6 separate regions of the Homo sapiens genome follow, and all the other regions are linked to region 2. The links come from fine-mapping of genetic effects on gene expression. A gene starts in region 2. Each other region holds a variant in brackets. All regions are shown on one strand. Distances are between the middles of the regions.

Region 1 (5,299 bases), 23 kb before region 2:
AAGCGGGACTTGCCGCTAAGGGTGAAGGACCAAGACAGGCGTCCCTGCGTGGTCTGACACCTTTGAAACGTGGGTGAATAATCAGAGAGGCGTCCCTGCAATGATTAAACACCAAGGGAAAGCTGCCTTCCCAGTCTGTGACCGGCGCCGGAGTTTTGGGTCCACGGATAAAACATGTCTCCTTTGTCTCTCCCAGAAAATGAAAGGAATTGAAATTAAGAGAAGGGAGAGATTGAAGAGTGGAAAGGAGAAAGTGGTTGAGGGACAGTGAGAGAGGTTGGAGAAGAGAGTAAGAAGAGACCGCTTACCTGATTTAAAATTGGTGAGATGTTCCTTGGGCTGGTCGGTCTGAGGACCTGAGGTTGTAGGTGGATCTTTCTCACGGAGCAAAGAACAGGAGGACAGGGGATTGATCTCCCAAGGGAGGTCCCCCGATCCGAGTCATGGCACCAAATTTCATGCGCGTCCATGTGAAGAGACCACCAAACAGGCTTTGTGTGAGCAACATGGTTGTTTATTTCACCTGGGTGCAGGTGGGCTGAGTCCGAAAAGAGAGTCAGCAAAGGGAGATAGGGGTGGGGCCGTTTTGTAGGATTTGGGAAGGTAATGGAAAATTACAGTCAAAGGGGGTTGTTCTCTGGTGGGCAGGGGCGGGGGTCACAAGGTGCTCAGTGGGGGAGCTTCTGAGCCAGGAAAAGGAAATTCACAGGGTTAATCACTCAGTTAAGGTGGGGCAAGAACAAATCACAATGGTGGAATGTCATCAGATAAGGCGGGGCAGGGCCTTTTCACTTCTTTTGTGATTCTTCAGTTACTTCAGGCCATCTGGGCATATACATGCAAGTCACAGGGGATGCGATGGCTTGGCTTGGGCTCAGAGGCCTGACATTTCTCACATTTCAAAATGTAACAATGGTTTTCCAACAGTCCATTACCTCTTTCCAGCATTACCAGTAAAGTCCAAAGTCCCAAGTCTCTTCTGAGACAAGGCAAGTCCCTTTTGCCCATGAGCCTGTGAAATCAGAAACAAGTTATTTACTTCCAAGATACAATGGGGATTTAGGCATTGGGTAAATACTCCAATTCCAAAAGGTAGAAATAAGCCAAAAGAAATAAGATACAGGCCCCATGCAAGTCTGACACCCAGCAGCACAGTCTTTAAAACTAAAGCTCCAAAATAATCTCCTTTGACCCCATATCTCACATTTAGGGCACACTGATGCAAGGGTTAGACTCCCAAGGCCCTGAGAAGCTCTACTCCTGTGGCTTTGCAGGGCTCAACCCTCATGGCTACTCTCATGGGCCGGCATTGCGTGCCTATGGCTTTTCCAGGTGCAGTGTGCAAGCTGCCAGTGGCTCTTCCATTCCAGGGTCTTGAGGATGGTGGGTATCTTCTCCCAGCTCCTGGCCCAGTGAAAACTGTGTGGAGACACTTACCCCACATTTTGCTTCTATACTGCCCTAGTAGAGGTTCTTCATGAGGGCACTGCCCTTGTAGCAGGCTTCTGCCTGGACATTCAGGCTTTTCTATATATCCTCTGAAATGTAGGCTCCCAAGCCTAAACTGTTGCACTTTGTGCACCTGCAGGGTTACCACCACATGGAAGCTGCCAAGCTTTATGACATGTACCTTCTGAAGCAACAGGCCGAGCTGTACCTTGACCCTTTTGAGCCATGACTAGAGCAGCTGGGATGCAGTGAGCAGTGTCCTGAGGCTGCACAGGGCAGCAGAGCCCTGGGCCTGGCCCAAAATTTATTCTGTCCTCCTAGGCCTCTGGTCCTGTGATGGGAAGGGCTGCTGCAAAGGTCTCTGAAATGCCTTTAAGGCCTTCTCCTTATTGTTTTGGCTATTAGCACTTCGCTCCCTTTACTTATGCAAATTTCTGCAGCCTGCTTGAATTCCTCCCCTGAACATGGGCTTTTCTTTTCTACCACATGCTTTCCTACACACTTTCAGAAAACTGGATCTCATGAGAACTCACTATCATAATGACAGCACCAAGGAAGATGGTGTTAAACCATGAGAAACATTAGTTTATTTGCCAATGTCTGAGGTAGGCAGGTGAGGACAGCGTTTGTGCTGTTGTGGAAATGTGTTCTGAACAGGGACCTTGAAGTGAGGTGGAGGAGGTGGCCAAGGGAGAGAACACTCAGGACCCCAGATGGCTGCTGCTGCCCAGGACATCCCCGCCTCTTATGGATGTTACCCAGATTGTAGCAGGGAGAGGCTTCCTTTAAGTAGAGAGTAAACGGACTAAGAAAGCGATAGATGGCTCCACATGCCAAGAATGTTCTTTTCCTTTTCTCTCCCTTTTCTCCCTCTCCTTTTCTTTTCATGATATCAAATGCCAGAGAGGCGTGCAGAGCACGTAGGGGGCCTTCCTTGCGTTGCTGCTACCCAAGCCTGCCTGGGCTGTAAGTTCCCCC[G/A]GAGCACCCCTTTGCCCCCACCTGTGGCATGGTCGGCCTCTCTTGGGCCCAAGCCTACCCTCTGCTTCCTCAGAGCGGGTCTCAGACCAGGCAGGGGGTTTCCCAGGAGTCCCTGGGAAGGTTTGTTTTCTGCAGTGCCATGGTGACATAAATGGTTGCTTTCCTTATCATTTTTCAATATTTAGTGGCCACTGATTACTGCCTTAGAAACACGGAGCAATTGAGGTTTTCCTGCCCCTTTCCAATTCCAGTTCAATGTAATTTTCCTGCTGTGACTCCTGTCCCTCTCTGATGTCCTCTCCCCTATTCAGGCTTCAACAGAAGCCTTCTATCCCCTCTCAAAGCTCCGTCCTCCCCAGGAGACACCAGCCAGTCTCTGTGCTTCCTCCTCCCACCCTCTCCCAGGGAGTCCTCCCTCACCTGTGAGCAGGAGCCCCTGCCAGGGGATGCATCCTCTGCGGGGAGGGGCTGAGGGGGGCCTCATGGTCTCTGCTGCCTGCTTCTCTTCTGTGGAGAGGAGCTTAGCTCCAGGATGATCAGAGCTACTGTGACTGCCAGTTCTGCTGTCTTTCCTCCCTCTGTGCTGAGCCTTCTCTCAGGGCAGGAGCACTTCCTAGGGCCAGGGGCAGGGGCGGGACTCTGCCCAGGATGCTTCTCTGTCCCCTCCCCTCTCAGTCCTGCCTTCTGGTTCCTGCTTCCCCTTCCCTTCTGTGTGTGTTTGGTCCTTAGGACCTGCTGAGGCCATTTGCCTTCTTCAGATATGGCTCTCCTTCCACACTTGTCCACACACACACACATATACACACACAGAGACACACACAGAGACACACACAGAGATGCACACACACATACACACAGACATGACACAAACACAGACACACATATATACAGACATACAGGCAAACACATATACACATATATACAGACATAGAGGCAAACACTCACATATACAGACACACACACATATATACTCAGATTCATTGAAACTGAGACACATGTACACATACAGATACACAGAGCTGTCACAGGACAAACTAGCACAGATAAAGACTTCAAGTGGCTTTATTTGCCGTCCTAAAATCGGGCGAGACTTCATCCCATGAGACAATACGTGGGTCAAGGAGCTGAGCAGAAGCGCGGGTTTAATAGAGAGGGGAGGGCTGCGGAAAGCAAACACAAAAAACAGGGCCACTCGGGAAAGGCTCATGGAACAAGGGAGAAATCTCTGATGGGGGAGAATCAGGTTCCTGTTTTAGAAACGGTGAGAGCAGAGGGGAGGTCATTGTCATGCGATTGAAACTGGCCTGTTTGGGAAATCGGCTATTATCTTTCGAAGGTCAGGTAGCAGCTCAGTTTTCCTTTGGTGACCTGTGACATTGGGGAAGGACTGCATTGTGCTGTTGGTCTGGTCTGTTGGGGCCTGGAGCAGGAGCTCAGCCACTGCCATGGCCTCCTCTGACTGCTGTTTAGCAAAGCTCTCAGGTGGGGCTGATGGCGCTGTCCTGGGGAGGCCCTTTCAGTAGCAAGGCTGGTGCAACCCTGTCCCCTGGGAGGATGACCCGCCCTCCCCAGGGCTGACCTCTGCTATCTCCTGGCCTCAGGTCTGTCAGCTCCACACACAGAACCCTGGGGATCCAAACCTGGGGAATTCTTTCTTTGTGATGCAGAAACCCAGCTGGCCAGGTCTCCCCATGCTCTTTAGTGCTTGGGAAGGTGGGATGATGCCCAGCAGGAAGGTGACAGAGGTGGCTCTGGGGGATAGAAAGGAGCTCACTGGGGGATGACTGGGGAGGGACCAGCCCTCTGTCTCCAGTGTCACCAGCCTGGCCTCTGACCCAAAGAGACCCAGGCTGGACTCAGGTGGAGCTCCAGCTCCAGGGTGTGGAGGAAGTTGTCCTGTGTGTCCTGGGTAGAGAGGACTGTGGTGGAGGGAGGTGGGTGGCTCTGAGCCCTGCTGTCCTTGGGGAAGGCTTCATGGAGACCCTCCCTTTCTGTGTCTGTTGGCTGAGCTGTGGCTCAGGGCCTGTCCATGTTCTCCCTATGTTCACCCCTTAACCTTGCAGGTGGTTGGGGGGGCGAGAGAGATAGAAAGACTGTGTCTGTCTGTGTGTGTGTGTGTGTGTGTGTGTGTGTGTGTGTGTGTCCTGTGGCTACCACACCTTCCCCATGGGTGATGCCAGGAGGAAGTGGGGAGCTGCACAAAAACCCTTGGCAGAGCAGGCACCATGAAGGAGCAGGCACATGGCAGGGACCAGAAGGGTCATTTGGGGCAAGGGCTGGAAACCAGGCTCCACCTCTACCTCCTTAGCAAAGCCAGGTTCCTGTCCAGGGGAATCCATTTCCTGAGTGTTATCTGTGTGTGATGTCGCCCCCTGGAGGGCAAGAGGAGACTTGTGGCCTTGTCAGGGGCTGCCCCAGGGACACTGACCAGGGTCTGCATGGTATGAGCTGGCCCTGACCCCTGGGCAGAAGTGGGATCTGACCTCCAGACTGCAGGGTCAGGTCACCCCAGGTCCTGTTCACTGCAGGTCCCCAGGCTGCCCAACTCCATGCAGTGCAAGATGAGCCCAGGGAGAGGACAGGAGTTATCCAGAGAACAGCAGGTCGAGATTCAAGAGAACTGTCCACCAGGAGGATGGGCTGCCTTAGAAGGAGCCACCTGTCCCCAAGGTTTCAAAGGAAGGGCTCAGGGAGGTATCTCTGGGGGCTTTAGAGAGAGGATGCCAGCCTGGGAGGTAGGTGGTCCCCAGAATGCCCTGTGTTCCTCCATCACAGCACTGGGGGTGCTGCCTCCAGGTCAACTGTGTCCCTGTCTGATGCCCACTGTCACTGCTGTTACTCAATATTGTACTGGAGGCATTGGCCAATGAAA
Region 2 (5,299 bases):
GAGAGGAAAAAAAAGAATGATATATGCTTTTTAAAAATTTTTTTATTTATTTATTTTTTGTGATGGAGCCTGGCTCTGTCACCCAGGCTGGAGTGCAGTGGTGTGATCTCGGCTCACTGCTGCAACCTCCACCACCAGCTTCAAGTGATTCTCCTGCCTCAGCCTCCCAAGTAGCTGGGATTACAGTTGTGTGTCACCATGTCCAGCTAATTTTTATATTTTTAGTAGAGATGGGGTTTCACCATGTTGGCCAGGCTGGTCTTGAACTCCTGACTTAAAGTGATCCTTCCAAAGTGCTGGGATTACAGGTGTGAGTCACTGTGCCCAGCCCCCTTAAGAATAATCTTAAGAAGGTTCTTGCTGAAGCACTTAGTGGTGAGAGTTACAATGTCTACTCCTTGTTTTTAAAATTTAAGAATATTTTAAAAGCATATGTTGTGTGTGTATAAACAGATACAATAAAATGTGAAGAGTGGGTGAATCCAGTGAAGGGGATACTTGTGTTCACTGTACTATCCTTGCAACTTTTCTGCCGGTTTGAAATTTTTCCGTCTTTTTTTTTGAGATGGAGTCTTACTCTGTTGCCCAGGCTGGAGTGCAGTGGTGCGATCTCGGCTCACTGCAACCTCTGCCTCTTGGGTTCAAGCGATTCTCCTGTCTCAGTCTCCGGAGTAGCTGGGACTACAGGTGGCTGCCACTACACCGGGCTAATTTTTGTATTTTTTTTTTAAGTAGAGATGGGGTTTCACCGTGTTGTCCAGGTTGGTTTCAATCTCCTGACTTCAATAGATCCACCCGCCTTGGCTTCCCAAAGTGCTAGGATGACTGGTATGAGTCACCGCTCCCAGCCTGAAATTTTTCAAAATGAAAACACCGCAGGTCAGGAGTTTGAGACCAGCCTGAACAACATAGTGAAACCCTGTCTCTATTGAAAATACAAAAATTAACCAGACATGGTGGTGTGCACCTGTAGTCCCAGTTACTCGGGAGGCTGAGGTGGGAGAGTTGCTTGAGTCCAGGAGATGGAGGCTGTAGTGACCTGCAGTGAGCTACAACTGCACCACTGTACTCCAGCATAGGTGAGAGCAAGACTCTGTTTCTAAAAAAAAAAAAAAATTACTGGGCATGTACTGTATGCCATGTAGGTGGTGGAGACATAGCAGGAGATCAGACAAACACTTCCCTGTCTGTGTGGCAAATATTAAACTTGCAATAAACTTGCAAAGACAAATAAAGATAAAATTTATAGAGATGTCAAAAATAAACATATAATTGCAAGTCACATTCATTTCTCTTTCTCTGCTATTCCTGCTCTCGCCTTCCCTCTTCTGCTTCTCCTCTCTCCGTCACAGACACCCACAACGTCCCTCTGCAGTCACTGACAGATACCCCAGGTTCCTTCCTGTCTTCCTCCCCGCCACCCCAGTGTGTTACAGCTGATTTGTACAGCCCTGGACAAGCCCATGGTTAAATAGCTAGGGATTTCATCAGCCTGGTTGGCAAACTGTAGGTAGCTTAAAATCAGACATGCTATGAGTATTTACACCAGAGAAATAGGCCAACACTACGAGGCAGGATTTGTGGGTATTGTTTTTCAGAAAACTTGGTTTTTCAGCACAACACTGCTCTCCCATCGGCTTCCAGCAAATAAATGTTGCATTTTTCAGATATATCCTAATTCTTTCATAGATATTCAGTCTCTACTCCACCTCTGGCCAAGCCTTTCCTGGTGGTAGGAAACTGGGGACTTGAGTCCTATGTTGTACTGTGAGGGTAGAGAATAGAAGAGAAAGCATGAGAGAAAAGCATGAAAAGAAGAATCAAAAGAAAGCAATATAAGAAGGAAAGAGAAAGAACAGAGAAGTGGGAAGACAGTGGAGGGTAGAAACTAGGACCGGAAGACATGGGGACAAGCTGATGCCCACTGCACAACGTCCTCACAGGTAGTTGGGCCATTTCCCCATCTGGGGTACAGAGGTGGCCAGGGAGCCCATGAGAAATGAGGAAACTGCCTTCCCAAACTACTGGAGAAAGAGGGTGGGGGTGGTGATCCACATAGCTGGGCTCAGGAGGAAAGAGGGCTGGGAGTCTGGACCGGGGGAACCTCGGGTCAAGATGCCACAGTTTCTAACTATGGAGGGCCTGGGGGCCTGGACTCCTGGGTCTGAGGGAGGAGGGCCTGGGGGTCTGGACTCCTGGGTCGGAGGGAGGAGGGCCTCGGGGCCTGGACTCCTGGGTCTGAGAGAGGGAGGCCTGGGGCCTGGACTCCTGGGTCTGAGGGAGGAGGGGCTGGGGGGCTGGACTCCTGGGTCTGAGGGAGGAGGCACTGGGGGCCTGGACTCCTGGGTCTGAGGGAGGAGGGACTGGGGGCCTGGACTCCTGGGTCTGAGGGCGGAGGGGCTGGGGGTCTGGACTCCTGGGTCTGAAGGAGGAGGGGCTGAGGGGCTGGGGGTCCTGGACCCTCCATCTGAGGGAGGAGGGGCTGGATGCCTGGACCCGAAGGTCTGAGGAAGAAAGGGGGTCCCTGATAGGCCACTGCGGCCATTGAGACTTGGGGTGGGGCCCAAGCCTCCATTTTGCAAGGCCCTCCCCTCCCCACCCTTTTCTGGGCTGGCTGCTTAAGGGCTGGTATAAAGGACTTGTTTCCTGCTGAAAAAGCAGAAAGAGATTACCAGCCACAGACGGGTCATGAGCGCGGTATTACTGCTGGCCCTCCTGGGGTTCATCCTCCCACTGCCAGGTGAGTGATGAGCCCAGCCTGGAGGAGATTCCCTGGAGGCCGGGCAAGGGAACCCTGCTGAGATGGATTTGCTCTTGCCACTCCAGGAGTGCAGGCGCTGCTCTGCCAGTTTGGGACAGTTCAGCATGTGTGGAAGGTGTCCGACCTGCCCCGGCAATGGACCCCTAAGAACACCAGCTGCGACAGCGGCTTGGGGTGCCAGGACACGTTGATGCTCATTGAGAGCGGTGAGAAGGCCCTGGCGTGCAGAGACCCCGCCCTGTCCCCTCAGTCCCTTGATCCCTGTGCAGGGACCCGGGAGCCACCCCTCCGGGGGATCGACTCCTAGGGTCCCGGTGATCCCCTTTCCAGCCTCTCAGCCTACGCCGTGTAGCAGCGTCTCCCTCCAGGACCCTGGAGGCCTGACCTCCATCCTCGCTTGCCTCCCTCTTTCGGTCCAGGACCCCAAGTGAGCCTGGTGCTCTCCAAGGGCTGCACGGAGGCCAAGGACCAGGAGCCCCGCGTCACTGAGCACCGGATGGGCCCCGGCCTCTCCCTGATCTCCTACACCTTCGTGTGCCGCCAGGAGGACTTCTGCAACAACCTCGTTAACTCCCTCCCGCTTTGGGCCCCACAGCCCCCAGCAGGTGCCTGCGGGAGGGTCGGGAGGAGAGGGAGGGGCTGCTAGAAGGGGATCCGCTGAGCACAGAGGGGCTGTTACGGAGTCCCTCCCACCCTCGCTCGCTATCCCGACCCTCGCTGGCTCCATCCCTCCCCTGACTGCTCCCTGACCATCGCCCCGCCCCGCTCCCTTTCCATCCCTCCCCACTCACTCCCGATCCCTCCCACCGACCTGCCACCCGGGAATCCCCGCACCCCTCCTCTTCTAAGAGCAAACAGGACGGATTTCTGATATGAAATCACCATTAACTGGGTTATCCTGCATTCTTTTTTTATTCTGTTGCGTTTGGTTCAAGAAGTTCTCCTGCAGGGTTTTTGCTATTTCCTCTTCCTAAGGGAGACTGAACTGTAACTTTCCACTTTCCTTGTCTGGTGTTATAAAGAGTCTAGGGAGATATTTTGCGCTTCTTTTATTGGAACAGCTTGTGAACACAGAAGTCTCCTGTTCTTGGAGGTTTAGTAGCGCTTGCAGGTGAAGGCACTGGCTCGTTCCAGGGCACCCCCTCATTCCCTTGACCAATGAGTCTGCTTCTGTGTCTCCCCTCGGAAGGCCAGACTTTGTTGAAAGGTTCAGACTTGACCATGTCTGAGTCTACATTTGGCCTCAGCAGGCCCCTCCTCCACCCTGCCCACCCCCCACCCCCACTTGCCACCCAAGACACCCCCCCTTTTCTTTTCTTTTTTTTTTTTTTTTTTTTTTTTTCTGAGAAAGCGTCTCGCTGTGTCGACCAGGCTGGAGTGCAGTGGCGCAATCTCGGCTCACTGCAACCTCCGACTCCCGGGTTCAAGCGATTCTCCTGCGTCAGCCTCCCACGTAGCAGGGACTAGAGGAGCCTGCCACCACGCCCGGCTAATTTTTGTATTTTTAGTAGAGACAGGGTTTCACTATGTTGCCCAGGCTGGTCTTGAACTCCTGACCTCGTGATCCACCTGCCTCAGCCTCCCAAAGTGCTGGGATTACAGGTGTGAGTCACCACACCCAGCCAAGACCACTTTCTGTACCCAGCCCTGGGTGCCTCTACCCAGACCTCCTGTTCATTCTCCCTTCCTCTTTTATGGATTACACTTCTTTATTTTCCCACATCCAGATCCCATGATGGGAGCTGCAGAAGGCCCCTTTGGGAAGGCTGAGCAGGTTGACTCTTGAGGCCAGCAAAAGTGGGGTGCAGAGAAGGTATCTGATCAAATCCAGTGCCCTCTCAGTGCCCCCTCACTCTGTCTGTCACTTTCCTAGACCCAGGATCCTTGAGGTGCCCAGTCTGCTTGTCTATGGAAGGCTGTCTGGAGGGGACAACAGAAGAGATCTGCCCCAAGGGGACCACACACTGTTATGATGGCCTCCTCAGGCTCAGGGGAGGTAAGCCTGGGACATCGGGGTCCCTGTGGGGACTGAACTGGAAGGTCTGGGGACTGAGATCTTAGGCTTTGGGGAGTGAGGTGAGCTGAGGCACGGCATGAGACCCAGAGGAGGGTGGGCCTGGCTTCCTGGAGCTATGCCTGCCTCTGAGGGTTGGGTGGTCCTGGAGGCAGCATCACTGACTCTCCCTCGCTCCCCCTTTCTGCAGGAGGCATCTTCTCCAATCTGAGAGTCCAGGGATGCATGCCCCAGCCAGTTTGCAACCTGCTCAATGGGACACAGGAAATTGGGCCCGTGGGTATGACTGAGAACTGCGATATGAAAGGTGAGTCCTGCCCCTAGGCTGTGCCCTGGACTGCAGCCTCGGGGCACGATGACACATGGGGCATCCAGAGCCATCACACCAAAGCCAGCAGGAGGAAGGTCAAGGGTGCAGGGTGGGTTGCTTGGCATGTGGCTTTAGGCAACAGTGAGTGCTGGGGCCCCTGCTGGCTCTCAAGCTGCTGAGAGTGACTGGTTGCTTCAATTTCTGTGTCTCCACA
Region 3 (5,299 bases), 68 kb before region 2:
ATAGATAGTGTTGATAGTAACACAACAGTAAATTGCACACTTAGAAACAGTTAATGGTAAGTCTTACGTATATAGTGTCTGGTACTCTTACCCTCTCTATAAATACACACTTTTTGTCACTGTTCCTTCCCTGCCATAGGGAGCTTCTGTGAGTTAATCTCCCTATTTCTCCAAGTGTGCATCACTCACTGTCCTCTGTGCTGTGTTCCAGGAGCTGTGTCCACAAACTCACACAGGCAGTGACTTCAGAGCCAGGACACAGTCCTATTCCCATTTTTTAAAGCCTTACCCATGGGAGGCTTAGCTTCTACTGGCAGCTCGATTTAGCCAGATTCAGAACCGGCCACCCAGGCACCTTATCCACATGCCTGCCCCACCCCCCGGCTGGAGTCAGGGCAGGGTCGGTCACTGAGCGAGCCCACAGCAATGCAGGGAGCAGAGTCTGAGCTGCTTCTGCTTCACCCAAGGGGCTTCCTCCTGTCATTTGGGGAAAAGTGTGGGCTTGTTTTGAAGCCTCTGATGTTCATCGCAGCTCATGGAGTACACACACACAGACACACACACAAAGGAGACAGAAGGGATGTTTTGGTGACAGAAACAGCTTGACCATGAGGACCCTCCTCTTTCTCCGTCTGTGAAGGCCCTTATACTGCATAGTGCTTGGGGCTGATAAAGCCATTTCCCTACATTTCTCAGGCTGGACCCAAGGTCATCCACCAGAAATCTGGAAAACAAAGGGAAGAGAATCTGTAGATATGAATTGGGAGTGTTCAGGAGAAAAATTTGGGATTTACTTTTGTGCATGGGACACAGGCTGAGAATAAAAATGTTTTCCTGGCTCTTTCTTGGAAAGCCAGATAGGCTTCACCTGAAAGCATATTGCCAATGCTCCAGCGATCCACTTACCAGGGACTGTGATTTTCTTGGTTGCGAAGTTTTTGCCATTAGTGACTGGGTTATGGACATAACACAGATAGTCCCCACTATTCTCTGTAGTGACTTGGGGGATAAAGAGCTCTTGTCCTGTTTGCTGGTTATTCCCATTCAGCAGCCAAGAATACTCTGCTGATGGGTTAGAGCCCATGAGGCAGGAGAGGTTGAGGTTTGACCCTGCATAGTAATAGGTGTCTGAAGAATAAGTTGTGGGTTCATCTGGGCCATCTGGAGCAAAGAGAATAAAGCCACAGGTAATGTTATCAGAGGGAATGGGAAGCTCCTGGTCTGTGAAAGGGACACAATGTTCCTTTTTGCCAAGTCACAACCCTGAAGTCCCAGCCAAATTTCTTCTGTGTTCACTGAACTGGAGGAGTCTAAGACATTCACGTGTTCTCCCATCGCAAGCTATGGAACCAGAGTCCCCTAAGACCGGAGAAGCCCCTCCCTTCCTGGGCCTACCCAGGTTTGCCTGGGACAGAAAGTCATGGCCAGCTTGGGGGTCCAGGGGTAAGTGTCTTCATACTTGGACCTGAGAGGGACTGAGAGGCCTGGCCTCGTGTTATGTGGATTTGGGCTGGCAGCCTTGTCCATGAAGGAAAAGAGGATACTCACAGAGAACATCCAGGTGACTGGGTCACTGTGGCTGGTACTCACTACATTCTTCCTTTGACATTCATAGAGTCCTGTGTCACTCCTTGTGACACTGAGTAGAGCAAGGACCCTGTTATCATTGGACATCTTTAGCCTGGGACTGAGTGTGAGTCTATGACTATTTACCCACCACATGTAGATTGTGCCATGAGTCTCAGGTTCACAGGTTAAGACCACAGCCTCCTCATCCTCCGCGGGGTTGCTGGTGACATAGGGCTTGGGCAGATTCACTGTGCAGATAACAGAGAAGATTCCCCTGTGTGGCACCATTGATTTCTCCACGAGCATTTTCCAATCAGAGTTGACATCTCCCACCTCTCAGCCAATCCAAGTCCTTAAAAGCCCACAGCAGTTCTGTGTGTCAAAAGACAGATGGATGCATGATGATCTGAGGGCTCAGAGACCATGGGGCCACCTGCTCTGTGTGGGAGATGCACAGACTTCTGAACTGTGAATCAAGCAGCAATACTGGTGAACTGTGAATTGAGCAGGGTCATATAATTAGAGTTTGATTAACTTTGTTTAAATTGGGCAGAGTCTAAGTGAGGCAGCAGTGGCTCATGCATCTCCCCACCCGAAGGACCCCACCTTATGACACTGTTGTTATTATGAGTACACAGGTGTGCATGAAACAGGCAGTAAATCAAACAGCACCCACCTGGCCAGCTCCACCTGGTCCTAGGAACCACCAGTATTCCCATTATGTGTATGTTACAGCCTTTGTAGGCTACAAAATATAAAATACAACTTCAGAATATAAAATATGCTATTGTCAATACCAAATATTGAATATGAAGCTGAATATGTTGTTCCACTTTTTCTCACTCTTGTTAAACTTTGCTGTTTCAGTTTTGGAAGTTCCTATTGACACACACTTAAGCTAGAGATTCTTTCCTCAGCTGTGGGCAGCCTACCAGTAAGCCCATGCAGGGCATTCTTTATTTCGCTTAAAGTGTTTTTAATCTCTAGCATTTCTTTTGCTTCTTTCTTAGAATAGCCATCTCTCTGTTTAAATCACCCATCTATTCCTGAAAGGTGTCTCCTTTTTCCATCATAATCCTTAACCAGAGTTGTTTTAAATTTTCAGTCTGATAATTTCAACATCCCTACCACATCTGTGTCTGGTTCTGATCCTTGCTCTGTTTTTCAAACTGCATTATTTTTTTTTTTTTTTTTGCCATAGTCTGTCTTGTATTTTTTTGAAAACCACACATGATGTACTGGGTAAAAGGGACTTGAGTGAGCAGGCATTCAGTGACATGGTGGTGAGTGAGGGGAGGGAAGGGTTCTGTGGTTCTGGATGAGATCTGTGTCCTGGGCTGTGAATGTCACAAGTGCCTCTCAGGTTTTTCTTTCCATTAGGTGGGATATGATGACTTGAGGAGGCTGGAGTTGGATATTTCCCCTCCCCCTGGCCAGTTAAGCTCCCATCAAACCCCAGCTAATTAGGCTGCAGTAAAATAGTTCCTCTTAAATGTAGGTCTTACCAAGAAGAATATAATTCACTGACAACTTTCCAAGTGTTTTTTTCCCTTCTCTCCTACAAGAAGGATGCAGGGATTCTTTTTGGATATTGACTGTGAGAACCTGGTAGAGCTCCAGGAGCTAAGAGTCATAAAACTGTCCCCCTACTCCCAAGGCTAATTCATCCACTGGTGTGTTTATCTCTGCGCTGTGTCCACACTGAGCCTCCAGAATTTCCTCAATTAGAGTTGAGGTTTTCTGACCCCAGCACT[G/T]GTTCCCGCTGAGGTTTCTGTGCCTGTGTTTCTGCTCAGGTACGGTGCGCTGCTCTGTATTTGCCTGTGGGTCTCTTCAATATGTGGGCCAGTTAGCACTGAGACCTTGCTTCTCTGACAAATCTAAATGAGTTGTTGTTTTTTCAGTTTGTTCAGCTTTTTACTTGTTGTTAGAACTGAGTGAAAATTTTTAAGCTACTTACATGCCTGGCGGAAATTCGAAGTCTCTAGGGCATGACTGGAGGATATGAGCCCCACAGCAGGTTGAGGATGGAGTCATGAGTGAAATGGGTGAAATGAGCCCATGGGCTTTGGAAACTGCAGGTCTGTCCTTCAGCGTCTGACCACCTGGTGAGTCTATGTAGAAAGTGAAACCACCTTTGCAAAGCATATGATGGTGAGAGGAAGCTAGCTTGGCTGACCCCATCTCACCTCTAGCCTCAGGCTGGGTGTCCTCTCTGATTCTTGGGCATAGGCCAGGGTAAGCATGGAAGGAATTTATAGTTTAACTTTGACGCAAGGATGATAATAGTCCCTCCCTAAAATTAGCTCCCTCCTTGTCGGGGACTACCGTGGTAAATCTAAGAAAAGACCATGAATTATGCAGGAGCCCAAATTCTGCTAAAATGCAGGCATAGTTTCTATAATCCCTTACTGCTCAGGAGTCATGTGTCCAGAGGTCACAAGATTTGTGACTTTCCTAGTTGCTCCTATAGATAGCAACACTATTGTAGAATCTGAGATTTGTCTTTGGAGATGTTTCTCAGATTTTTGCATTCCGGCAACCAGCTGACCTCATCTAGACTCATGACCAATGGCTCAACCAGTCATGTGGCCCCCCACTCAGAGGCAGATTCAACAAATACAGACCATTTCCCCTACCGGCATCATTTCATCTTTAGCCAGTCAACAGTACTTATTCCTTAGAACTTTGCCCCTCAAAGTTTTTGAAAAACTCTAACCTCTGAGCCACTGGGGAAGCTGATTTGAGTCATAATAAACTTCTATCCTCCTGTTTGGCAGCCTTGGGCTAAGCAAAACCATTTTTTACTACACATCACCTTCACAATAAATTGGCTTTGCCTGCGCAGAGGGCAAGAACCTGTCAGGTGATTATAAGAATGGATGGAGGAGTCACTGATCTCTTTCTGGTGGCCTGTTTCATGAGTCAGCCTCTCAGAGGGAAAGAGCCCTGGACTGCGACACAGTGGAAGCTCATTCTCTTGGTGACCCAGGGACATTGCCTTATTATGGATCCTGGCAGGGGTGGCTGCTTTGGCTGATTTTGGTGCATTTTACATTTCCCAGAAGGCAGGACAGGCCTAAGTGTGAGCAGAAAGGAAACGGGGCAGTCAGCTTTGTTAGAGAGGGTGTCTGGGGAAGTCCTCAGGGTGGAGGAAGCTGTGCAGGACAGGGCTCATCAGGTAGAATGAAAGAGGGATGCACTTTTTTCACTGAACACCTTTCAGACATCTCACCAACTCTGGCCTCACTGGGCTGTGCCTTTCCTCCTGAGCCCTGAGCCCTGATTCCTGGCAGGGAGGGAGAAAGAGAGGAAGGGTGAAGCTGGGATGTGTGCTGTCCAGGTTTCTTCCATCTCTAGAATCTTGACAGCGAGGGACCCTAATGTGTTACCACAGAGGAGACCATGGGAAAAAGCTGTTTCTCAGGGGTGCCTGGCTTATGAAGTGAGGGAAATTCAGACCGAGTTGGACTCCTGAACTACAGGGAACCTGTTCCATGTCAGCAACCAGCTCCTCTAGCTCAGTGTTTCTCTCTGTGGCTAATTCTTTTGTATGGTTTCTGAGCCTATGCTAGAGTCCTCCTCACGATGCATGATGGTCAGACCTGTGTGGGGAGACCTAATGATGGGGTGGGGGTGGTCTTGAGTGTCACACAGAGTGTCCAGGGAACAGGCTTTGTGACTTTCTCTACCCCAGCCCCACAACAAGATCTGGATAGTGGGCTGGGTCAGA
Region 4 (5,299 bases), 32 kb before region 2:
TCTGGGTCTGTTTAGTAAATATTATTGATTTGTTCCCTTAACCATAAACATCTAGAGGCTAGGAATGCCTCACTTTCTGGAAATGCAGCCCAACAAGTCCCAGCCTCATTTTCCCAGCCCTCACTCAAGATGGAGTCACTCTACTTCAAATGCCTCTGCCACTTTTGTTTTGATATTTGTGTGATTTTTGAGTTTTTGTGGTACTCATTTACATCTTTGGAGATGTCTCATGCATCCTTGGCTAAGTCACAATTATGGTTAGTGCTTATCAGTTTCAGCTGGGAGGATACTTTTGGTTAAAAAAAAATTCAAAAGCCAGAAATATCAGCTGTTTGTCCTAGCTAAAATCTGATAATAAAAAATCTGAAAGTATTACAGTGGGTAGCTAGTCAGACATCAGCAGGACAGGAGGGAGCCTCCTTCCCCCACACACCAGGAATGTCATGACCATCAGGTGATTGTCAGGTGGTCGTTAACTGTCTCTCTAAAATAATAATGGGTTGTAGCTAGCACCAGGGAAAGGCAGTCTCCCAATAGACAGGAAACACCTGAAACAGTTGATCAGCTCCTTCCTGATAAGTTCTCAGAAGTTGGGTGAGTGGGCTAAAACATGTGCATTAAGAGGCAAAATGGTGGAGTTTAACTGGTTTGTGACCTCCCAGGGACATTTGACTGGAAAGAGAAGAACACCTCAAGTGAGCATGCATACAACTCCAGTAAATACACTGCGCATGTTCACCCCACCCCAAGTGCTAGCAGGCCACTGCACATGCAGACAGCCCACTCCAAAGGGAAAATAAGGGGAGAGGAGATGCAGACCCCAGAATTATGCCAACATACAAAAGCCTAAGTCAGAGGTCAAGCAATGCACTTGATCTCTTGTTGCCTGCTTGGCTTTTTTATTTTTTTATTTTTATTTATTTATTTTTTTGCAACAGAGTCTTGCTCTGTCACCCAGGCTAGAGTGCAGTGGCATGATCTCAGATCACTGCAACCTTCGCCTCCCAGGTTCAAATGATCCTCCCGCCTCAGCCTCCCTAGTAGCTGGGACTACAGGCACATGCTACCACACCCAGCTAATTTTTGTATTTTTGGTAGAGACGAAATTTCACCATGTTGGCCAGGTTGGTCTCAAACTCCTGACCTCAGGTGATCTACCCATCTCGGCCTCCCAAAGTGCTAGGATTACAAGTGTGAGTCACTGTATCCAGCCTGCTTGACTCTCTTTTAATTGTACTTTACTTCCTTTAATTCCTGCCTTAAAGCTTTTAAATAAACTTTTACTCCTGCTCTAACACTTACCTCAGTCCCTTCTTCTGCCTTATGCCTCTTAGTCAAATTACTTCTTCTAAAGAGGCAAGAATTGAGGTTGCTGAAGACGTCTACAGATTCACTGCTGCTAACATGCTTTGGTGTCATTTCTCAGCTATGTTTGGCAGCTAAGAGAAGGATTTCCCAAAACAGCTCTGTGATTAAGAGTCAGCTTAATTAAAAACTGGTATTTAAGCCATATATTTATTAATGGTATTTAAGCCATATAATTATTAATATTTATAATATTAAGCCATGTATATATTAAAATAATATATATATAAAATATTATATATATATAGAATATGTATATACACAGAATATATAAATTCATATTGGATATATATTGAGAAAGGACTTGAATGTATATTGAAGGCTTTTCTGCTTTTCTCTTTTGTATCTTTTTTTTTTTTTGAGACAGGCTGTCACTCTGTCACCCAGGCTTAAGTGCAGTGGCACAATCTCAGCTCGCTGCAACCTCCACCTCCTGGGTTCAAGGGATTCTTGGGCCTCAGCCTCTTGAGCAGCTGAGATTACAGGCACGTGCCACCACACCTGACTGATTTTTGTATTTTTACTAGAGACTGGGTTTCGCCATGTTGCTGGTCTTGAACTCCTGGCCTTGAGTAATCTGCCCGCCTCAGTCTCCCAAAGTGCTGCCATTACAGATGTGAGCCACTGCCTCTGGCCATCTCTTTTGTATCTTTGAAAGATTTTTTTTCAGTTGACTGAAATCTTTTTAAATCATGTGCTTAGTCTGTCTGGTTTTTTTCTTAAAAATTCTTTTTCTGCTTATTTCTCTTTCCATCCTTCCTCTTGCTATTCTTGATGCCACATGAGGGAACCTAAAGAATTTCTGACAGCCTGGAACCCCTTAAGGAAAACAGAAAAGATGCCACAGACTTCCCTATTTAGGAGAAACCACTGTTTTTCCTCATGGAACCCCAAGAGTTGTAAGTAAATGGATTCCTCTCAGGTCTAAAACTCTGCTCTCTTTTCCATTTTCCCTGACCTCTTTGGCTTTTGGGGGCATCAGAGATTACTTTGCACTGTAAAAATGCTTGACCTTATATGTGTGATGGCTGCTGGGTCACTGGTAAGAGCTTTGGTTTTGGAGGTGACTAACAGCGCTCGCAATAAATGATTATTACTTCAGAATGCTACTCATTTCTTTGCAAGTTTAGATAAGAAATACACAGTTTAAATAATTAGAAAAATGCCCTTATAGCAAAGTACACTGTGGAAGTGTTGCATAGTATGGTTCCATTGGCATTTTCCTCTTCTCAGGGACCTGGGATTCAGTGAAATCCTTGATTTATAAAGGTCTGGATGCTGTCCCTTG[C/T]AACTGGGTCTTCTTTTTATGTATTTAAATTATTAGGATCTAAAAGTTGCAAGACTTCGTTGGTCCTCTTCCTTAATGGGCTCTGTCCTGAGCTCAGTGGTCCAGTTGGAAAACAGAGACCAAATTAAAAGCTGCCTATCTAAATAAAATTGGTCTCCTTATAAAATCCTATGGTAAATTTCTGTCATTTTTGTGTTACCTTGGCATCTATTTTTAATCTTCCTTGAACACACACAAATTCCTTCTTGTAAAAGCTTTAGTTCTCTTTCTCTCTGTGCTTTGAGATGTAAATTTGCTACCAATTTTCTCTAAAACTCAATAAAGTCTGGCTTAATTAAATGTTAACCTCTTCCATTTACAAAGGCACAAATTTAATCCAACTGTCTTTTTTAAATACTGAATTTGATCGGTCCTATGCTGAAATCAAAACTCTAAACTCTTTCTGCCTCCCTCTATCTTTATGTGCACATGTGTATGTTATATGCTGTATCACATATATGTCTATGTCCATACATATGATTATATGTTGTTTACATACATGGTATCAAATTAATGTAAAAATAAGTACTCATAAATTAAGTAAATAATCCCAAATGCTTTTCAATACATGTGATTTTAGTAATCTTTGGTAAATAAAGATAGTTTAAAAATTATTGGTAAAATGAAGTAGAAATGTCTTCAGATTTAATTTAGACATTTGTGCCTGGGTCTGTTGGCAGACATTTTTATATTGTATTTACTAGATGTTTTAGGGTCATCATATGGTTGCTTCTGTATATATACATTTTCTTAATTTTTCTGTGACCTTATATCTTTAGATTTGAGCCTTTAGATTCTGAGTTCTAGATGAGCGACCATAGCAAGAACTGGGGACAAAACTCATCCCATCCCACAGCTGTGCCTTTTGGCCATGCTGGAAGAGATTAGATTCTCCAGGTATAATCTTCATAGCTTTGCTGTTTATCTTGGGCTTTACACCTGGTAACTAGTTAGAATTGCTTACTTCCTGTTTTTTCTCTCCTGAAAATAATGCTGTATTTGTTTGTTCTCACATTGCTACTGAGAAATACCTGAGACTGGGTAATTTATAAAGAAAAGAGGTTGAATTGGCTCATGGTTTGGCATGACTCTCACATTTGCTCAGCTTTTGAGGAGGCCTCGGGAAACTTACAATCATTGTGGAAGGCCAAGGCAGAACAAGGCATCTCACAGGTGAGAGCAGGAGGAAGACAGCAAGGGTTACACACTCTTAACCAGATCACCTGAGAACTCACTGTCACTAGGAAAGCACCAAGAGGAATGGTGTTAAACCATGAGAAACCATCCCCATAATCCAATCACCTTCAACCAGGCTCCACCTACAACTTTGGAGATTACAACTTGACATGAGATTTGAGTGGGAATATAAATCCAAAACATATCATTCTTTCCCTGGTTTCTCTCAAATCTCATGTCTTTCTTTTCATACGTGTCCGTGTGAAGAGACCACCAAACAGGCTTTGTGTGAGCAACATGGTTGTTTATTTCACCTGGGTGCAGGTGGGCTGAGTCCGAAAAGAGAGTCAGCAAAGGGAGATAGGGATGGGGCCATTTTATAGGATTTGGGAAGGTAATGGAAAATTACAGTCAAAGGGGGTTGTTCTCTGGTGGGCAGGGGCGGGGGTCACAAGGTGCTCAGTGGGGGAGCTTCTGAGCCAGGAGAAGGAAATTCACAGGGTTAATCACTCAGTTAAGGTGGGGCAGGAACAAATCACAATGGTGGAATGTCATCAGTTAAGGCGGGGCAGGGCCTTTTCACTTCTTTTGTGATTCTTCAGTAACTTCAGGCCATCTGGGCGTATACGTGCAAGTCACAGGGGATGCGATGGCTTGGCTTGGGCTCAGAGGACTGACATTCCTGCCTTCTTATATTAATAAGAAAAATAAAACAAAATAGTGTTGAAGTGTTGGGGTGGCGAAAATTTTTGGGGGGTGGTATGGAGAGAGAATGGGCGATGTTTCTCAGGGCTGCTTCAAGCGGGATTAGGGGCGGGTGGGAACCTAGAGTGGGAGAGATTAAGCTGAAAGGAGATCTTGTGGTAAGGGGTGATATTGTGGGGTTGTTAGAAGAAACATTTGTCATATAGTATGATTGGTGATGGCCTGGATACAGTTTTGTGTGAATTGAAAAACTAAATGGAATAAGAAGGAGAAAAACAGGTATAAAAGGTCTAAGAATTGGGAGGACCTAGGACATCTGATTAGAGAGTGCCTAAGGAGATTCAGCATAGTCCTGCCAGCAAAGATTATTTATTTACTTCAAGAGTTAAGAGTGGCAGTTTGGGGATAGCACGAGGAGATATCAGCTGTGATGGCTTGGAGAAACAGTGTAAACTGGCAGTGTGAACAAGAGCAGGGCATGTGTGAGTAGTTGAGAATGGAGAATAGGAATATGACTAGACAGAAAATAGTAGGGATGACAAGTTTTCTTGGGGGCACAGTCTAAGTTGGTCCAGTGTCTGGAATGAGACTGGGGCCTAATAAAAAGGAGCATCTATACAGGAGCTTAAATGGGCTGTACCTTGTAGCATTCTGAGGACAGGCCTGAATTCTGAGAAGTGAAAGTGGTAAAAGTATTGTCCAGTCCTTTTTAAGTTGGTGGCTGAG
Region 5 (5,299 bases), 59 kb before region 2:
TGTCACACACTGAGAAAGAATTCAGGACATGGAAACACATGAGGAGTGTGTTTAGGATTGAAAAATTTAACAGACAAAAAAGAAGAGAGAGAGAAAAAGCTTTCTCATACTGAGAAAGCAGTCACCCAAGAGAGGGTCTCCAATTTGGGGTGGAATGCAATTGATTTTGTACAGAGACTTAAGGAGGCAGTGATTGATTTACATAGGGTCCAGGGGATTGTTTTGACCAGGTGTTCCATTTACATAGCCTGAAAAAAGACTGGCCCTCCCATCCTATTCTTTTATTATGCAAATGTGGCTTCTACCTGGTGGTCACCATGAAATTAGGAGATATACCTAATGTTAAATGATGAGTTAATGGTTGCAGCACACCAACATGGCACATGTATACATATGTAACTAACTTGCACGTTGTGCACATGTACCCTAAAACTTAAAGTATAATAAAAAAATAAAACCCCATGGTAAATTTCTATTTTTTTGTGTTACCTTGGCATCTATTTTTAATCTTCCTTGAACACACCAAATTTTCTCTTGAAAAAGCTTAAGTTCTCTCTCTCTCTCTTTGCTTTGAGATGTAAATGTGCTATGTATTTTCTCTAAAACTAGGTAAAGCCTTCCTCAGATAAATGTTAACCTTTACCATTTACAAGACAGCAATTTGAATCCAACTATCCTTTAAAATGGTGGGTTTTACTGATCTCATGCCTAAACTCCTAAAATCAAAATTCTAGAATCTTTTTGTCTCTCTCTATCTTTATGTGAACATATATATGTTTCATCACATATATGTATATGTCACACGTTTATATACTGTTTACACATAGTATCAAATTAATGTAAAAATAAATGAGTACTCACAAATTAAGTGAATAAGCCCAAATGCTTTTCTATATATGTGATTTTAGTAACCTTTGGTGAATATAGATAGCTTTAAAATTGTTGGTAAAATAAAGTAGAAATGTCTTCATAATTTAATTTATACACTTTTGCCTATGTCTGTTGGCAGGCAGGTTTATATTGTCTTTACTAGATGTTTTAAGGTCATCAAAGAGTTGCTTGTGTATATATACATTTTCTTAATTTGTCTGTGAGCTTATGTCTTTATATTTGAAGCTTTAAATTCTGAGTTCTAGATGAGTGACCATAGTAAGAACTGGGGACAAAACCCATCCCATCCTCCAGCTGTGCCTTTTGGCCATGCTGGGAGAGGTGGGATTATCCAGGCATTTTCTTCATAGCTCTGTTCTTTGTCTTGGGCTTTGCATCTGGTACATAGTTAGAATGGTTTACTCCCTAGTTTTTTTTCTACTGAAAATAAGGCTGTATAAGTCTGTTTTTACATTGCTACAGACAAATACATGAACCTGAATAATTTATAAAGAAAAGAGTTTGAATGGTCTCATGATTCAGCAGGTTGTAGAGTAAGCATGATTCTGGCATCTGCTCAGATTTTGAGGAGGCCTCAGAAAACTTACAATCATGGAGAAAGCCAGTGGTGGAGGAAGACATCTTATATAATGGGAGCTGGAGGAAGAGAGCAAGGGTTGCACACTGGTAAAGAACCAGATAAAACTCACTGTTGCTATAACAGCACCAAGGAGAATGGTGTTAACATATGAGAAACCACCTCCATGATCCAATCACATCCAACCAGGCTCCACCTCCAACTTTGGAGATTACAATTTGACTTGAGATTTGGGTGGGGGTAAAGGTCCAAAAAAAATTATTCTCTCCATCTTCCCTCCCAAATCTCATGTCTTTCTCACATTTAATAATATAAGAATGGCTTCCCAACAGTCTCTAGAGTCTTAACTCACTCAGCATTAACTCAGAAGTCCAAAATAGCAAGTTTCATCTGCGACAAGGCAAGTTCCTTTTACCTATGAGCCTGTAAATTCAAACACAAGTTAGTTACTTTCAAGACACAATGGAAGTATAGGCATTGGGTAAATACTCCCATTCCAAAGGGAAGAAATAGGCTGAAGGAAATAAGATACAGGCCCCATGAAAGTCTGAAACCTTGCAGCACAGTCTTTAAAACTTAAAGCTCCAAAATAATCTCCTTTGACCCCATATCTCATATTCAGGGCACACTGATGTAAGGCTTAGGCTTCCAAGGTTCTGGACATCACAAGAACATTCCAAGAGAGTCACAAAAGAATTTGTAGTGTGGCTTTTGATGCTAAACAGCATATTAGACCAAGTAAGTCACTGAAGAGAAAAAAGTCAGAGGAGAAGATGGGTGAGGGTGACAGAAATGGAATGGTGAAAGGAAAGGTCTGATAAAAAAGTTTA[C/A]CGGCTGGGCATGGTGGCTCATGCCTGTAATCCCAGCACTTTGGGAGGCCGAGGTGGGCGGATCACAAGGTCAGGAGTTTGAGACCAGCCTGACCAACATGGTGAAACCCCATCTCTACTAAAAATACAAAAATTAGCCAGGCGTGGTGGCACGCACCTGTAATCCCAGCTACTCAGGAGGCTGAAGGCAGGAGAATCACTTGAACTTGGGATGCGGAGGTTGCAGTGAGCTGAGATTGTGACATTGCACTCCAGCCTGGGTGACAGAGTGAGACTCCATCCCAAAAAAAAAACAAAAGTTTACCCAGGGGCTCATCTGGTACCTTGCTCTGTGACTAATATCTTACACATTTTGATTTACTCTTCCACTTTCATTTTCTGATGCGTGAACGGTCACCCTTCTGCTGAAGATGAGAAAAGAGGCTGAGGCAGCTCAAATGAGTGGTCTAGAGTCATCCAGCTACTTCATAGAGCTTGTGTCTTTCACCTTGACGTTTGTGCACAGACAGAAAAGAGACACAGAAGGAAGGCAAAGCAAGTTTTTGTTGTGGGTGATATTTATGAAAGTTACCTGTGTTAGGCAGAATAACGGACTCCTAAAATGTTTGCACCCTAGCTCTGGAACCTGTGCATTTACTTTTCTTGGTAAAAACACAGTGCAGGGGTGATAAAATTAAAATCTTAAGATGTAGATGTTATTCTAGATTATCTGGGTGGGCCCATTGTAATCAGAAGTGTCCTTGTAAGTGACAAAGAAAAGCAGGGGCATCCGTGTGAGAATGATGAGCCTGTGAGACTCCACTGGCCAATGCTGGGTGTGAGCATGCATCAAAAGACAAAATTACAACTAATGTAGTTATAGATTTTATTTTTCATTTATTATTTGAGGCAGCTCTCACTCTACAAATATAGTGACAGCCCTCCCTGGGCTATACAATAACAAAACAGTGGGTTTTGTCAAGTGGGAACCAGTAAACAAAGCCATATAAATAAATAAATTGGTGAACATTAGGGTACTTCAGGTCACTTTTCTGTAAAAGTTAAAGCAGAGGAAACTTTTATTATGCTGTCTCAGGTAGAGTGGAATCTCCTGTTTTCAACAAAAAACAAAGGTCTGTTCTGGTATCTCTTTGCTTCATTAAAATTTCAGTTGTAGACTGTAGCATTTAGCATGAGTGGTTCTATTTTGGAGTCTCTAGGCTCTCACTTAGGTGAGAGTGTGACCAAAATTTAAAGCATTGGCATTCATCTCAGTAACCATCATATTGGGCTTCCATCATTTATAGGTTTATGATGTCTTCCTGATCACACATTTCTTTGAGTTTTTGTCATTTCAGCCAAAGAGAGACCCTTTGGTATTTGTTGATGGCTGCACACAAAACTTTTTAAAAACTTTTGTAGAATTCACCACACCAAATTGTAGAATTTAAAAACCTGTAGAATTTATCACACCAGAGAGGCTACTAGTATGACTATTGGGAGGATAATACCAAAAGTTTGGAGTATGCACTTTAGGCAAGATGCAAACCAAGTAAAATAGAATAGATCAAAGAATGAGCCAGAAGAATCTAGCAATTTTAACCAAGTAGTATGTTTGGTAACTTTTGTGATTGAGTTGTTATGATACTCGATGTATTTGTTTATGTGCAACAATCAGTGTCAGAAACTGCACAGGCTCCTCCCTGTTCAGCTGGTAGGGAACAATTTTATTATGTAGCATTCGATGGCTCATTAAATTAAAACAGGGAATGAGAACGAGTCTGAAAATGTAACTTTAAAAGGGACCACTGTACATTTGAACAAACAATTGTGTTAAAGATGGTGCTAATGTCAGCCATTGGGTGGACTAAATGATATCTTATGTAAAAATTTGAGGGTGACATGATATATCTGTCACTCTGTTACACTACTCTCAGAAGCTACTTCATGTGAAATTCTAATGATACCATCATCCTGCCAAGTGAAAGAGGCAGGCATAAGCATGGACAAATTAAGAGGGGTAAGAGCCTGATTTTGATGTGGAGACTTGTTCTGACAACTTGGGAAAAGCTTTTGACAGTGTGAAGTTGTCAACTTCTTATCCTGGTTTTAAGTTTGAGTGTCTGTAGTTATGGTGTCAAACATATTGGTGAGCTCTGAGTGACTCATACTTCAGACACGAGGGTTTTCCCGTGAAATTTACATTGAGCTTTCCACCTCCAACTTATAGGGCTTCAGGAATAAAGCAGATTTTGTTCTTACTGATTCAATAAGAGAAAATTGGATGGGAGGAACTAGAAGAATTCAGGGTCTAGTTCAGTCTACCGGTGAATAATAAAAACTCAAAAACAATGAACAGAGCTGCAATTTCATAGCAGGTATACTACACTTTTTATTTTCAACGTTATTTTTCTCTCTATAAGAATATCTATTTTTACCAAAGATAATCCCAGTAGGATAAATTTGTTTCCAAAGTAGGTTTAGTCTTATCAAACTTTGCCGGGATTCTTTACATAAGTGCATCAAGAGTAGCATTGGACCACAGAGACTCTTCCTAAAGTTTGCATCGCTAGACGTTTTTATAAGGAGTCTCAGATTAAACTTTTACAAACCTCTTGAGATGAGGAAGCCAAATGAAGGCCATCTTCAGACTTTGCCTGCAGTACTTATGGGTCCATTCTATGTATATTCTCAAATATAACATCTCAGTCAAAGCCTTGGTAATATAACCAATGTTTTGAAATGTGTCCTTTTGTAAAGAGAGAAGATTCTTACTAAACTTGTGCAAATAACTGTATTAGCATAAACATATGAATACTCATGAATAGTTTCCCAATCCTGGGACAGTTAGGTAAAGAGCAAAAATAAATGGGCTTCAATTATTGTTTCCAAAAGTATACTTTACCAAATTGCTTTAGATATAGCTAGCTTAAAAGAAGAAAAATTCCATAAATCTGGAAAAAATCATTTAAAGAATCAGCAAATTTTCAAATAAAAATTATAAAAACATTATCCACATTAT
Region 6 (5,299 bases), 66 kb after region 2:
ACAGCTGGGCCTACAAGCTGAATATGAGTCGTGCAACTTCTCACAATTCCCTGAATCCACCAAGCTGGCTCACACCACCTGACCTTTGTCCTTGCTGTTTCCTTTACTACCCTCCCCACCCCATTTTCACATAGCTAACCCCTGTTCATCCTCCATGTCAATTCAGGTATCAGCTCTTTGAAAATATTTGCCAAATTCTTTTAGGTAGTTGGGTATTCCTCCATTCCTTTGTCATTATACCTTGAACACAGCAGCTACTGAATTGATTACTTACATGTCTTTCTCCTAGGCAGAGATGCCAGGTGACAGGAACTATGTCCTTTTCATCTCTGTATCTTCACACCTCAGCAGAGTTTGGAAGTCAGATCGATGGAGATTTCACAGCAGAGAACACCAGCTGGGGAAGGATGGGGAGGCTGAAGTAATGGGCCTTGATTAGAGTGGCATCTGCAGGAAAATCTTGGGGAAGAGAAGGCAGCAAGGAGCAACATCTCTGGAGGCAGGACCTGCCCTTAACTGTCTCTCTCATTTCCCTCCAGCTTCCACTGTGTCAACAACCCTCCATTGTCCAACCTGTGTGGCTTTGGGGACCTGTTTCAGTGCTCCTTCTCTTCCCTGTCCCAATGGTACAACTCGATGCTATCAAGGAAAACTTGAGATCACTGGAGGTAAACTGAAATGAACATCTGATAGTTTCAGAGGCTGGAAAACCATTTGAGTGGCTCCCCAGAGATTCTGACACTGAGCTCTCCAGGGATGAGGGGGGACTGGATTCTCCTCTGATGTCCTAAAACATCTCTGTCTCTCCCGATCCTTCCTTGTTCTATAGGTGGCATTGAGTCGTCTGTGGAGGTCAAAGGCTGTACAGCCATGATTGGCTGCAGGCTGATGTCTGGAATCTTAGCAGTAGGACCCATGTTTGTGAGGGAAGCGTGCCCACATCAGCTGCTCACTCAACCTCGAAAGACTGAAAATGGGGCCACCTGTCTTCCCATTCCTGTTTGGGGGTTACAGCTACTGCTGCCATTGCTGCTGCCATCATTTATTCACTTTTCCTAAGAAGGCACTTCTGGGCCTGGGTCTGAGGACATCTTTTTTGACTGGGAGCCTTCTTACTGTTGAGGTTCAACAAGCTGAGGAGTAGATGGGAATTTGAGGGAGAATACAGAGATACTATGAACGTATTTGACATTTTTAATACAATTTCTGCTATAATTTTTGTATGCAGTAGGCGTTACTAATAAACATTTCTGCTGTGATTTGTGTATGTTTCAACACTAGAAGTGGAATTTTAGTGCTGAAAGAGCCTTTAAAATTCATCTTCTCCAAACCACACATTCTCCAGAAAGAGAATCTGAGATCTGGAAAATTTCAGTGAGTTTCTTACATTTAGCTATGGCCAGAGCCAAGGCAAGAACTTACATATTTTGACGTAAAGTCTGATTTTCCTTTCACTCTAATATGCTAGCTCTCCTTGCTAGCAGAAGTAACTAGCATTAGCCTCCTCCAGAACACTCCCAGCCCAATCTTAAGGCTGCTGTTTTGGGGTTCTAAAATTTCCCTAGGAAGTATGGCCAAATGAGAAAAATCAGACTCCAAATTCTCCAGTTATGGGCCTGCTGTAGTGGCTTATACCTGTAATCCCAGCACTTTGAGAGGCAGAGGTGGGAGGATTGCATGAGCCAAGGAGTTTGAGACCAGCCTGGGCAACCTAATGAGACTACATCTCTACAAAAAAAAATAATCCAAAAATTAGCCTGGCATGGTGGCGCTCGCCTGTAGTCCCAGCTACTTGGGAGGCTGAAGTGGGATGATCACTTATGTCCACAAAAAGAGTCAAACTCTGTAAAATATTTGAAAAGATTTATTCTGAACCAAATGTGAGTGACCGTGGTGTGTGACACAGCCCTCAGGAGACCCTGAAAACGTGCCTAAGGTGGTCGGGGCACAGCCTAGTTTTATACCGTTTAGGAAGACATGAGGCAATCAAATACATGTAAGATGTACATTGTTTCAGTCCAGAAAGGCAGGACAACTCCAAGTGGAGGAAACTTCCAGGTTATAGGTAGATTCAAAAATTTTCTGATTGGCCATTGGTTAAAAGAGTTATTATCTAAAGACCTGGAATCAGTAGAAAGGAATGTCTGGGTTACGATGATAAGGGATTGTGGAAACCAAAGTTTTATTACACAAATGAAGCCACCATGTCGCAGGCTTCAGAGAGAATACATTGTAAATGTTTATCAGACTTAAGGTCTGTGTTGATGTTCATGCTGGTCAGCTTTTCCCAAAATCCAAAAGGGAGGCGGGTATATTGAGGCATGGCCGACTCTCCCTTCCCACAGCATGGCCTGAACCAGTTTTTCAGGTTAACTTTGGAAAGCCCTGGCTGAGAGGAGGGGACCCTTCAGATGGTTGGGGGCGGGGAGTGGCTTATAATTTTATTTTTTGTCTGCACTTGAGCTCAGGAGGTTGAGGCTGCAGTGAGCCATGATCATGCCTCTGTACTTCAGACTGGATGACAGAGTGAGATCCTCTATCAAAACAAAAGGCAAATTCTCTCATTACAGTGGGCCCCATTTCTCTGTGTCCTGTCTATCCCTTGCCTGCTCTACATCATTCCTTCCCTTCCCTGGGGCTGACTTAATGACTCTTCAGTGGACTTGGGAGGGAGGGAGGAAGGATTCATTACAGTATGGTGAATGGGGACCTGTGACTACTTGGGCGGCAAAGATTTTTGGAAAATTCTCATGCTTATTATTACTCAAAAATACATAAGCTCTATCTTATTGTAAAAGACTCAAATGATATCAGAGGTGTATAGAGCAAAGTAAAAGGTGGGGAGGGTAAAAGGGAGACAGATATTTTCTTC[TA/T]AAAAAAAAAAAAAAAACAGCTTTACTAAGACTTATCTGACACACAGTAAACGGCACCAGAGGTGGAAGGAGAGACTTTTATTACAAACACTTGTTCCCCTCTCAAAAGACTGGGGAGTTTGGCCATAGTATATATATTCCAACCAAGTTCTTTCTAGAAAGTTCTCTGGTTCTACCCACTGAGAAAGGGAAAAAAAAAATCTTGGGATACCAAACTCACTATGCTAAAGGGAAAAGTCAGGCTTGGGAATGGAGTCACACCAAACTGCCCCTTATTTTGTTCCTAAATATGTAGCTGCAAAGATTTAGAAGTCTACACACCTCCCCAGCAGGCCTTGCTCACAATTTGGCCACAAGGAAATTCCTTGTGGGCCCCAAGATCTTTACCCTAAAACAGTTCTGCTTGAGTTTCACCCTGGCAATGTAATTAACAGTTTATCTTCACAGGTACTGGACAAGACAGGACCAGAAGTCATCCCTCTGCTCACCTGAGACAAATGCCTATTTCACTCTTTCCTCTACTAGATGTTTAGTTTATTTTATGTAAAAATGCAAATCTGGCCAGACACGGTGGCTCACCCCTGTAATCCCAACACTTTGGGAGGCCAAGGCGGGCAGATCACGAGCTCAGGAGTTTGAGACCAGCCTGGCCAACATGGTAAAACCCCATCTCTACTAAAAATACAAAAATTTACCAGGTGTGGTGGCAGATGCCTGTAATCCCAGCTATTCAGGAGGCTGAGGTGGAGAATCACTTGAACCCAGAAGGCAGAGATTGCAGTGAGCTGAGATCCGGCCATCGCACTCCAGCCTGGGTGACAAGAGCAAAACTCCGTCTCAAAAAAAAAAATGCAAATTCACTGAGGGCAAGATGATTGCATAGTTGACTATTCCTCTACCCTCTCCTTTCACATGTAAAATGTAGATTCACTGAAAGCTGATCAAAGCCTCAAAAGAATGCAACCACTTTCCCTTTTTATTTACTCTCCTCCTTTTTTTCTTTCCTCTTTCTCCTATTGCCCACTCCTTTCCCCACTTTAAATATTGAAGTCCCCAGGCCGGGTGTGGTGGCTCATGCTTGTAATCCCAGCACTTTGGGAGGTCGAGGCAGGTGGATCACCTGAGGTCGGAGTTCAAGACCAGCCTGGCCAACATGGTGAAACCCCGTCTCTACTAAAAATATAAAAAATTAGCTAGGCATGGTGGCGGATGCCTGTAATCCCAGCTACTCGGGAGGCTGAGGCAGGAGAACTGCTTGAACCTGGGAGGCAGAGGTTGCAGTGAGCCGAGATCATGCCACTGCACTCCAGCCTGGCAACAAAAGTGAAACTTTCTCTCAAAAAAAAAAAAAAAAAAAAAAAATTGAAGTTCCCAAATCCTCTTTGGAAAAAGCACAGATCACAGATGTTCCTGTGGTTTTGTGTTTCTTTTTCCTGGGCATGTCCTAAACCTTAGCAAAAGAAACTAAAATAATTAAGACTCACCTCAATCATTTTTTTTTTATTTATACCACTCTCCTGCAGTTTAAGCGCTACTCTAGCTAATTCCTTATCTTTGTCCTTAGGTAGCCAGTCCCCATTGTGTCAGTTTGCTAAATCTCCCTAAAGAGGAAGAAGAAGCACACGAAAATCAAATTTTAACTGAGGGCCAGGTGCAGTGGCCCACACCTATAGTGCCAGCACTTTGGGAGGCCAAGGCGAGTGGATTACTTGAGCTCAGGAGTTTGAGACCAGCCTGGGCAACATAGTGAAACCCCGTCTCTACAAAAAATACAAAAATTAACTGGGCATGGTAGTGTGTGCCTGTACATAGTCACAGCTATTTGGGAGGCTGAGACAAGAGGATGGCTTGACCCAGGGAGGTGGACAGTTTGCTGAGGTCACGCCACTGCACTCCTCCTCCCTAGATGATAGAGCATGACCCTGTCTCAGAGACAGAGAGAAAGAAAAAGGAAGAAAGGAAGAAAAAGAAAGAGAGAAAGAAAGGAAGGAAGGAAGGAAGGAAGGAAAGAAAGAAAGAGAAAGAAAGAAAGAAAAGAAAAGAGAGGAAAGAAAGAGAAAGAAAAGGAAGGAGTGACAATGCCAAATTCTGGAGAGGAATTGAGAAACTAGATCTCTCATATATTGCTGTAAGAATGTGAAATGGTGCACCCACTCTGGAAAATAGTTTGGCCATTTATTTAAAAACTAAACACACACTTACCATCTACCCAGCAGTCATACTGCTGAGCGTTCATCCACAAGAAATGGAAACTTAAGTCAACACAAAATCATGTATGTGCTTGTTCTTAGCAGCTTTATTTGTAATAGCCCAAAATGAAAACAACCAAAATGTCTTACAGTAGGTGAATGTTAAACTCCACAATAGAAAGAAACAAACTATTTATACACACAGAAACTTGGCTGGATCTCAATGGCATTATGCTG

What was found.
Region 1: its variant is fine-mapped to the expression of CD177 in whole blood (INTERVAL, PIP 0.99).
Region 3: its variant is fine-mapped to the expression of CD177 in whole blood (INTERVAL, PIP above 0.99). The same link has a PIP of 0.9 or more in gastroesophageal junction and tibial nerve.
Region 4: its variant is fine-mapped to the expression of CD177 in whole blood (TOPMed, PIP above 0.99). The same link has a PIP of 0.9 or more in lung.
Region 5: its variant is fine-mapped to the expression of CD177 in whole blood (INTERVAL, PIP 0.98).
Region 6: its variant is fine-mapped to the expression of CD177 in whole blood (INTERVAL, PIP 0.97). The same link has a PIP of 0.9 or more in transverse colon.

What each region holds. Positions count from the first base shown.
Region 1 is chr19:43,328,497-43,333,795 of GRCh38, forward strand. It overlaps LINC03078 (long intergenic non-protein coding RNA 3078), which reads right to left and starts at 3,012. Exons shown (of 2, transcript NR_186343.1): 1 at 2,848-3,012; 2 at 493-1,012. The variant G/A (reference allele first, on the strand shown) is at 2,428.
Region 2 is chr19:43,351,027-43,356,325 of GRCh38, forward strand. CD177 (CD177 molecule) reads left to right here and starts at 2,660. Exons shown (of 9, transcript NM_020406.4): 1 at 2,660-2,740; 2 at 2,827-2,967; 3 at 3,181-3,366; 4 at 4,635-4,757; 5 at 4,966-5,082. The coding sequence starts at 2,689.
Region 3 is chr19:43,282,530-43,287,828 of GRCh38, forward strand. It overlaps the pseudogene CEACAMP11. Among named protein-coding and RNA genes, the nearest start is that of PSG9, 16 kb to the left of the region's middle. The variant G/T (reference allele first, on the strand shown) is at 3,324.
Region 4 is chr19:43,319,398-43,324,696 of GRCh38, forward strand. No RefSeq gene overlaps it. Among named protein-coding and RNA genes, the nearest start is that of LINC03078, 9.5 kb to the right of the region's middle. The variant C/T (reference allele first, on the strand shown) is at 2,654.
Region 5 is chr19:43,291,882-43,297,180 of GRCh38, forward strand. No RefSeq gene overlaps it. Among named protein-coding and RNA genes, the nearest start is that of PSG9, 25 kb to the left of the region's middle. The variant C/A (reference allele first, on the strand shown) is at 2,299.
Region 6 is chr19:43,417,339-43,422,637 of GRCh38, forward strand. TEX101 (testis expressed 101) reads left to right here. Exons shown (of 6, transcript NM_001130011.3): 5 at 540-668; 6 at 830-1,259. The coding sequence ends at 1,059. Among named protein-coding and RNA genes, the nearest start is that of TEX101, 5.1 kb to the left of the region's middle. The variant TA/T (reference allele first, on the strand shown) is at 2,873.